Regions from separate parts of the Homo sapiens genome. Here region 1 is linked to region 2. The links come from fine-mapping of genetic effects on gene expression. A gene starts in region 2. The other region holds a variant in brackets. All regions are shown on one strand. Distances are between the middles of the regions.

Region 1 (4,531 bases), 430 kb after region 2:
AAGCAAAACAGTAAGAAGGGATTCCACCATCAGTTTGGGAGTCAATATAGCACAACTGCAAAATGAAGGGGAAAAAAGTACTACCATTTAGCTTTCTTAATTTTCATGATAAAAGTAGCTTGCTTTTTCCTACCCTAATCATTGTAAAAAGTTCAAATGACAATGAAAAATATAAGGAATAACTTGAAATATCATCACTCTAAAATAACCATTAAAATGTTGATGATCATTTTTTTCATTCTTTTTAAAATTCATACAAAGATACATATTTTTGTTAAAAGGAATAATATTACATGTAGTTATTTTACTGTGGACACATTTTAAAAATATTTTTTCATCTTGCCTCTACTTCTACTTCAATTAACAACCTTCTATGTCTTCTTCTAGGCCTTTTTCTATACTCATATACAAATACACATACATTTCTATTTCCTATATAGGTATAGGGAGAAGTTTAAGTTTTTCAACATTATTTTACCAAAATAGTATATTATAGACATCTCTCTGTATATTACTCTTCTCCCTTAACAATATATCAAGAAAGTCCCTTTAAGTCAGTTAGCAAGATCTAACACGTTATTTTATTTTTGAGACAGGGTCTTGCTCTGTAGCCCAGGGTGAAGTGCAGTGGCATGATCATGACTCACTGCAGGCTCAACCTCCCAGCCTCAAGTGATCCTTCCACATAGCTGGGACTACAGGCATGCACCACCATGCTCAGCTAATTTTTTTTATTTTGTAGACTATTTGTAGACAAATTTTACTTACGTTGCCCAGGCTGGTCTCGAACCCTTGGGCTCAAAAGATCTCCCCGCTCGGCCTCCCAAAGTTCTGGGTATTTATAGGCATGAGCCACCATGCCCAGCCAACACATTCTTTTAAATGCTTAAATTATAGTCTATGATATGGATGGTTACGTAACAGTTCCCCCATTCAAGAACATTCACATTTTGTTCCCAGTTTTTGCCACTTCAAATAATGCTGTAATGTTCATCCTTATACATGTTTCCTAAGTATTGGTGCTTATTTCTATGAGCTGTATGCCTAGGAATGTTTGTTAAATTAAAAAATGAGTGATATATTTTAATCTTAAAATATATTGTTAAGAATCGTTTTTCCAAAATCACTACAAAAATTCGTATTTTCCACTAGGAACCCAGGTGTGTTCACCCCTTCGAACACTAGGTATTATCCTGTGCATACACCCCTTCAAACACTAGGTATTATCACTTAAAAAATAATTTTCAATAATTTTCAATGGGATGGGTGAAATGTAGTATCTGATGGTTACTTTAATTTGCATGTCCTTGACCCTAAAGAGATTATGAAATTTGTGTATGTTTACTAACCATTTGGGATTTATTCTTTTCTAAATTGCCTATTAAATATTTTGCCAGTTTTTCTATTTTCATCCAATACATCAATTTATAAGAGTTTTAATTATAGATAATAACCCTTTACGTCTGATATATGCATTTGAAAGATGTTATTTTTCCCAATCTACTATTTTTCTTTTGATATTATTTATATCTTACCATATAAAATTTTTTATTTTCACTATGCTTTAGTTTAAATATGCTTATTTCAGACACTCAGCCCTCCATATCAATGGGTTCTGCATCTGCACATTCAATCAACTGCACACTGAAAATATTTTTTAGGCCGGGCACACTGGCTCATGCAAGTAATCCCAGCACTTTGGGAGGCAGAGTGGGTGGATGACTTAAGGTCAGGAGTTCGAGACCAGCCTGGCCAACATAGTGAAACCCTGTCTCTACTAAAAATACAAAAATTAGCCAGGCACAGTGGCAGGCACCTTTAATCTCAGCTACTCGGGAGGCTGAGACAGGAGAATCACTTGAACCCAGGAGGTAGAGGTTGCAGTGAGCTGAGATTGCGCCACTACACTCCAGCCTGGGCAACACCCCATCAAAAAATTTATATATACATTTTCTTCATTAAGTAAAATTATTTATTTATTTATTGCAAGGTGTGGTGATGGACACATATCACCTGCAGCTGATGTAGTCCCAGCTAGCTACTCAAGAGGCAGAGGCAGAAGTCCAGGAGTTTGAGTCCAGCCCAGACAACATAGCAAGACCTCCGTCTCTAAAAATATATATAATTGAAAAATTTGTTAAACGCCAGGTGCAAAGGCCTTGCCTCTTGAAAAAGCAAAACAAAACAAAACAAAAATATGCCAGGCACAGTGGCACACACCAGTAGTCCTAGCTACTCAGGAAGCTGAGGTGGGAGGATCCCTTGAGCCCAGGAGTTCAAGGTTACAGTGAGCTATGATGGCACCACTGCACTCTGGCCTGGGCAACAGAGTGAGACTCTGTCTCTGAAAAAAATTAAAATGTTAAATTTTAAAAACTAAAAATAGCAATATAATAAAAAATACAAATTAAAAAATACAGTACAACTATTTACAGAGCATTTATACTGTATTAGATGTT[A/G]TAAGTAATCTAGTGATGACTTAAAGTATGTTAGAGTCTATGTGAAGGTTAGATACAAATAACACACAGTTTGTATAAGGGACTTGAGCGTCCTCAAATTTTGGTATCCTTGGGGGTCTTGGAACCAATCCCCCTACCACTGGATACTGAGGACAACTATACACCTTCTAGGTATCCTATCATAGTAAAAGATCTCCCCATCCCATTATTTACATATACATACTCCTACATTTTTCTTCTAAAATTTTAAATTTTCATTTAAGTAAAATTTATTTTTGCATTTAGCATGCTGAGTCCAACATTATTTTCTTCCAGTAAGATACAGTTGTGAAAGCACTATTTAATAAAATCTGTACACTAGATCATCTGAGCATTCTATTCTGTTCCACAGATCTATTTTTCTATTTCTATGCCAATAGCATACTCTTGATTAAAGCAGTTTTACAGCCTTCCTTTTTGCTCCTCCTGAGTTCATTCCCACCTTGGAAGCTTTGGACTAACTGTGCCTTGGAGAGTTTTCCATCAGATTTTCATGTGGCTAGCTATTACCCGTCTGAGCTTAAATATCATCTCTTCAGAGTCTTTTCCTGACCATTCAGAGTAATGTCATTCATTCTATCATTTCATTTTTGTAGCACTAAGCTCTAGCAGATATTATTATTTATGTATTTCTTTACTGTTTGACTCTTCCAGAAGTATGTGAGCACCATGAAAGCAGGACTCTGTATGTCCTGTTAGATGTTCCCAGCCTCTAGAACAGTGTCTGACACACAGAAGGCATTTAACGAATGTTTGCTGAATGCATGGATTTGTTCAGATTTTGCTTTCATCTTTCAATAATATAATTTCTTCTTATATCTTTGTTATTAAATCTCTTCCTTAGTGTTTTATAATTTATGTTGCTGTCATAAAGGTACACATTTTTCCCCATTTCCATTCTAACAGGCTATTTTTATGGCAGAGAATGGCCATTCACTTTTGTATATTTATCTTGTATTTAGTTATCTTACTAAATTCTCTTATTAATCCTAGTAGTTTTTTACTAGGGTTTTCTAGGTGTACAATCATATCATTCGCACAAAGAGATAATTTTATACTTTTCCCAATATTTACATTCAATTATTTCATTTTCTTATTGCATTTCCTAAAATCCCAAAACAATGTACAACATCAATGGTGAACTTCTCTGCAATATTCTTTATCTTAACATATATGGCTTAAATGATGTTTCTTATTGTTTTGCCTTTGTTTTTTGTGTGTTTTTAATAAATGGTTTTCATCATAAACTTCCATTTCTAGCTGACTTAAAAGTTTCTGTTAGGGAGAACATGCCCTTTCAGCATCTAGGATTTTTTTTTCTGCTTCATGTGTTAATATAATAAATTATGTGAACAGACTTCCTGATATTAAACCATTCTTATAATCTTGAAGTAAATCATGCAAGATCATGGCATATTAACCTTTGATACATGGATATATTTCATTTGCTTATATTTCATTTAGATTGTAGCATCTATATACGATTGGTCTATACTGGATTGGTTGGATTCATTTTTAAATCATTGTTTTCTTCTGTAGACAATGAAGATTTAGGATAATAATAATAATATAGAGTAATTATACCGTAGCATAATATCTTGGTACATTTAAGATTGCAACTCAAAATAAAAGACAACTAAAAACACTTGTCAAAAAAGAATTTGAAACATTCCACTAGAATAAACTCTCACTTATCCAAAATATTAAGACAAGGGTAAACTGCCTAATGAATAAGTCAACTTAACCAAAAATTCCTTTGCAACTATAAAGAACTGTCAATATATTCTGCTAACATTACCAGACATCTCACAGATAAACAAGATTAAAGCAGTTTAAGAGAGAGCTCTTAAAACCCAGATATCTCTTTCAGATGACAAATAGTGCTAAAATGCAATTCTTACATTAACCACGACAAGTGGCTCTAAGTCAGGTAACTTGACTAATAATGTACTGATGATAAGGCTAAAGAGTTCTGCCACCTAGAGTTAAGAAGCTTTATCTAGAAAACTATTTCCCATTACTAAAATGCAAAG
Region 2 (4,000 bases):
ATGATGCCCATTTTGCAGATGAGGAACGGAGGCTTTGAGAGTTAAGAAACTTGCCCAAGGCTACTCAGCTAGTGAGTGGCAGAACAAATTAAAACTCAGATCTAGGCCTGGCGCAGTGGCTCCCGCCTATAATCCCAATACTTTGGGAGGCCAAGGAGGGAGGATTACCTGAGGTCAGGAGTTTGAGATCAGCCTGGCCAACATGGTGAAACTCCATCTCTACTAAAAATACAAAAAAATACAAAAAAAAAAAAAATTAGCTGGGCATAGTGGCACATGCCTGTAGTCCCAGCTACTTGGGAGGCTGAGGCAGGAGAATCATTTGAACCCGGGAGGCAGAAGTTGCAGTAAGCCGAGATTGCACCACTCCACTCCAGCCTGGCAGAGTGAGACTCCGTCTCAAAAACAAAAGCAAACAAACAAACAGAAAAAACAGCAAAGAAAAAACTCAGATCTAAACCCACGTACCCAACACTCTACTCTTCTGTTACTCTCAGTACTTACAACTTTAAATATACAGTAGCTGGCTGGGCGCAGTGGCTCATGCCTGTAATCCCAGCACTTTGGGAGGCCGAGGCGGGCAGATCATGAGGTCAGGAGTTTGAGACCAGCCTTGCCAACATAGTGAAACCCCGTCTCTACTAAAAATACAAAAAATTAGCCAGACGTGGTGGCAGGCACCTGTAATCCCAGCTACTCGGGAGGCTAAGGCAGGAGAATCGCTTGAACCCAGGAGGCGGAGGTTGCAGTGAGCCAAGATCATGCCACTGGACTCCAGCCCGAGCAACAGTGTGAGACTCTGTCTAAAAAACAAAACAAAACAACAACAAAAAAAAACGGTAGTCTGTTTTAAAATGGGATTGTCAGTATTTAAAACATTCTGGCCTAACAGGATTTGTCATGCAGTTTCATCACTGAGATGGAAACCCACATATCACCTTCTCCAAAAAGCTTCTCCTGACCTTCATAATTCAAGTGATGCCAGCTCCACCAACCTCCCCAGCCTTTCTACTTCCTATTCCATCACAGTCTTATTGTTTTCCCAGCACTTGTTCCTAGTTGAAACTGTCTTATTAATTTGTTCATGAGTCTACTCTGTCTCTCTGACATGAATATAAGCTCCACCAGAGTAGGAACCTTGTCTGTCCTGTTTACAGCTATATCCCTAGTGCCTAGGACAGTGCCTGAAATATAGGAGGTGATCAAAAATTATTTACGGAATGAAGGAATGATTGCATTCAGGCAAAATGAATGCCCACCCAATCTTATTACTCACCAATAGATGTGAAAATAGAGAGGATAAGAGAAAACAAAAACAGAAGGATTGCAGCAGAATCATTCCATACAGTAAGGTCAGTGAAAAAAAAAAAAGGAAGAGGGGTTGGGATCCATGCTACAATTCATCTACTTAGAAAAGCATAAACTCTGAGTTCACAGACTGTCAGTCCAACTTTCAACTAAGTAAGGGCTGATGAGGAGAGAGGTGTTAAAACTTAGAATGGAGATGTAGGTAATGGATGGAGTAGGGGGCCACACCTCCTAACCTCCATTCATAACCACTGATCGCTCACTTACAAAAAAACTTCGCTGAACCACAGCAAGGACAATTGTTGGGGACCCTTAAACAGCAGACCTTCTACCATTCGCTTGGCTCTTCTTATGCACTAGATACAGCTACCTGGGATGCAGGTGCTGTTTCCCAAAGGCAAGCAAGTGGCAGTAACCTAGCTCTTCGCGGAAGAAGTAACGAGAGAAATCTTCAGACCCAGAACAGGGTCCTCTGCATATGCAGGTCCCCAACGGCTCTATTTCTCCCAGGTGGGAAGGTGACCGTTCCTCAGGACCTCCCAAGTGCTAGGCACTATGCTGGGCTCTTAACATGCTTTCCTTAATTTACGGGCCATTCCTTCCCCCCAATCCAATAATTTAGAGAGGCCTCAAGTACAACTTCTCCATTCCCCAGACCCGCTACTCTCTACCCCAAGAAATCTTCAAACTCCAGGAGCGGTTGGGGAAGATAAAAAGAAATCTGGAGTGGCCTAAGAGTTAGAATGGGAGGGGAACGGTGCTAGGGCAAGAAGAGATTATACTGGGATCAGTATAGTAAAGATCAGTAAAGAGAAGATAAGAACGCGGTCTGACCCTTTCCAAGCCCATTATGTCCATCAGAAGAGATGACGAGGAGCAGGAAACTGAAGCCCAGCAAACAGGTGGCCCCGAGACGAGGCCGCGTCTCCATGGCAGTAGGTGCGCGGGGCCACGGGGCTGAGCGGACGCAGGGCCGGAGTCCCAGCAGACGGTCCACACAGTTCGCCGAGCGCCGCTCAGCACAACACCTCTACTTCCCAGATTTTTTTTTTTCAAACTCTGAAGGAAGTGATGTTAGACGGATGTGGGTGGTGCCTCCGGGGTCCGGTTTGGGATGGAGTGAGCTTAAAGGTGCAGATCACGTAGAAGGGTACGAGAGCTGTTCTCGAGCGCGAGTTGCTTTTCGTGGATTCTGGGTGTCCAGGTCCCGGGACGGAGCGGGAAAATGTAGGCCAAGATAGTAGGGGCGGGGGAGAGGTTCGGGAGAACCGTTGCTCCTCGCGTCCGCCACCCAGTCCAGCCCCTCCCCCCAAGAACCGCTGCACTTCCTAGTCAAAAGCAAATTATTGATTCGTGAGGTCAGTCGCTCCCAACAGTGGGCGGATTGCCCACTGGCCTCGGATTCTCCTTACCCCTCCACAAATCAAGACTGGACAACTGGATTTCATTGTTAGGTTCCTGCGAGGGTCTCTGAGGAGACCTGGCAAGCCTGTTCTGCGGTGCGTGGGCTCGTGCCGTGCAGACATGCACTTTCCCGCTGGAGAAGCTCTGTACCTTATTTTTCCTTGCAACCGCAAATCTTCTACTCAGGGATGATGCAACCAACTGATGCAAGCTCCAAGAAAACCAAACTTGGGACCTCTTATTGCAAAACTGACTTAGGTGGACTTAGGACACCAGGATATAAGTCACTGCAGGCTAAAGTGTAAAGCTTCTGGTTATTTTTCTTGTAGCTTGAGGATTTCTTCCCAATTTTTCCCCTTCGCTGTATAACAAACAGGTGAAAATGTCCGGTCTTTTTCTTCCTGGTACTAGTTGAGTCCTAAAGTCCGTACTTAATGCATAGCGAAAAAGCGACCTAACAAAAGTACACACCCAAATAAAAACATACCGACCACCCTTTTATTAGGTTCCCTAAAATTGTAGGCAGGGACACAACAGAACGCTCGGGAGACTGCAAGCCCCAGGATGCCGCGCGGCCACCTGCACCTGCCGCCACTAGCACTAAGAGGGATGCGCAAAGCAGGCGGGGCGTTGGAGTTCAGATGTTCGCTCCCGGGATAGGCTGCCCCGGAGAGGGAGAGGCGGGGTCGGCTGTATCACGTGGATCTGCTCCCGCCGCCGCCGCCGCCGCCGTCGTCTTTCTCTGTCTCGGCTGAGGCAGCCATCTTTCTCTTGCCGCGTGCTGGTGTTGGAGGACCCTCCCTGCTTCAGGTGAGACCCCCGGCGGTCCCGCCACTTCACGGCCATAGGCCGCTGCGCACGGTCTCCCCCCGCCCTCCCCTTCCGACACCCGCCAACCGCTCAGGCTGCCACTTCCGCCGTGGTGCGGCGAGCGGGGGCGGAGGCGGCTGGCTTGGCCTGTCGGTTACCGGCGGCGCAGCTGGGGGTCGGCACCTGTGGGAAGGTCCCCAGCACCACCGCCCCCTGTGGGAGCGAGCGGGCCCGCCCTGTTGCCGCCCAGACCCTGTCCCAGGAGGCAGGTGGACGCCCCTCCTCTGTTCCATTACTCCTTGCTCACAACAGCAGTGTTGTGTGCTTTGAGCTTTATACAGGCTCTCTGTTGTCATCTCATTTGATGCTCCCAGTCTACAGATAGGGAAGCTGAGGTTACCACTTCCCGCCCTTGAGTCCAGGGAACCGAACTCAGTTACAGCACTCTTCACCTTGTAATGGCAGTGTTTGTTTACAA

Which allele goes with the higher level. Alleles are on the strand shown, and positions count from the first base shown. SD is a standard deviation of normalised expression in the study named.
For the expression in tibial artery of the gene that starts at base 2,334 in region 2, allele A in region 1 goes with a higher level than allele G (small effect, 0.32 SD a copy in GTEx).

The links. PIP is the estimated chance that this variant, and not a neighbour inherited with it, causes the effect.
Region 1: its variant is the best candidate, but not a certain one, in a credible set for the expression of TXNDC12 in tibial artery (GTEx, PIP 0.60).

What each region holds. Positions count from the first base shown.
Region 1 is chr1:52,481,869-52,486,399 of GRCh38, forward strand. TUT4 (terminal uridylyl transferase 4) reads right to left here. Exons shown (of 30, transcript NM_001009881.3): 10 at 1-55. Among named protein-coding and RNA genes, the nearest start is that of TUT4, 69 kb to the right of the region's middle. The variant A/G (reference allele first, on the strand shown) is at 2,460.
Region 2 is chr1:52,052,858-52,056,857 of GRCh38, forward strand. It overlaps TXNDC12 (thioredoxin domain containing 12), which reads right to left and starts at 2,334. Exons shown (of 7, transcript NM_015913.4): 1 at 2,143-2,334. The coding sequence starts at 2,239. BTF3L4 (basic transcription factor 3 like 4) reads left to right here and starts at 3,438. Exons shown (of 6, transcript NM_152265.5): 1 at 3,438-3,522. RefSeq lists silencers at 2,358-2,762, 3,623-3,862 and enhancers at 2,928-3,641, 3,642-4,000.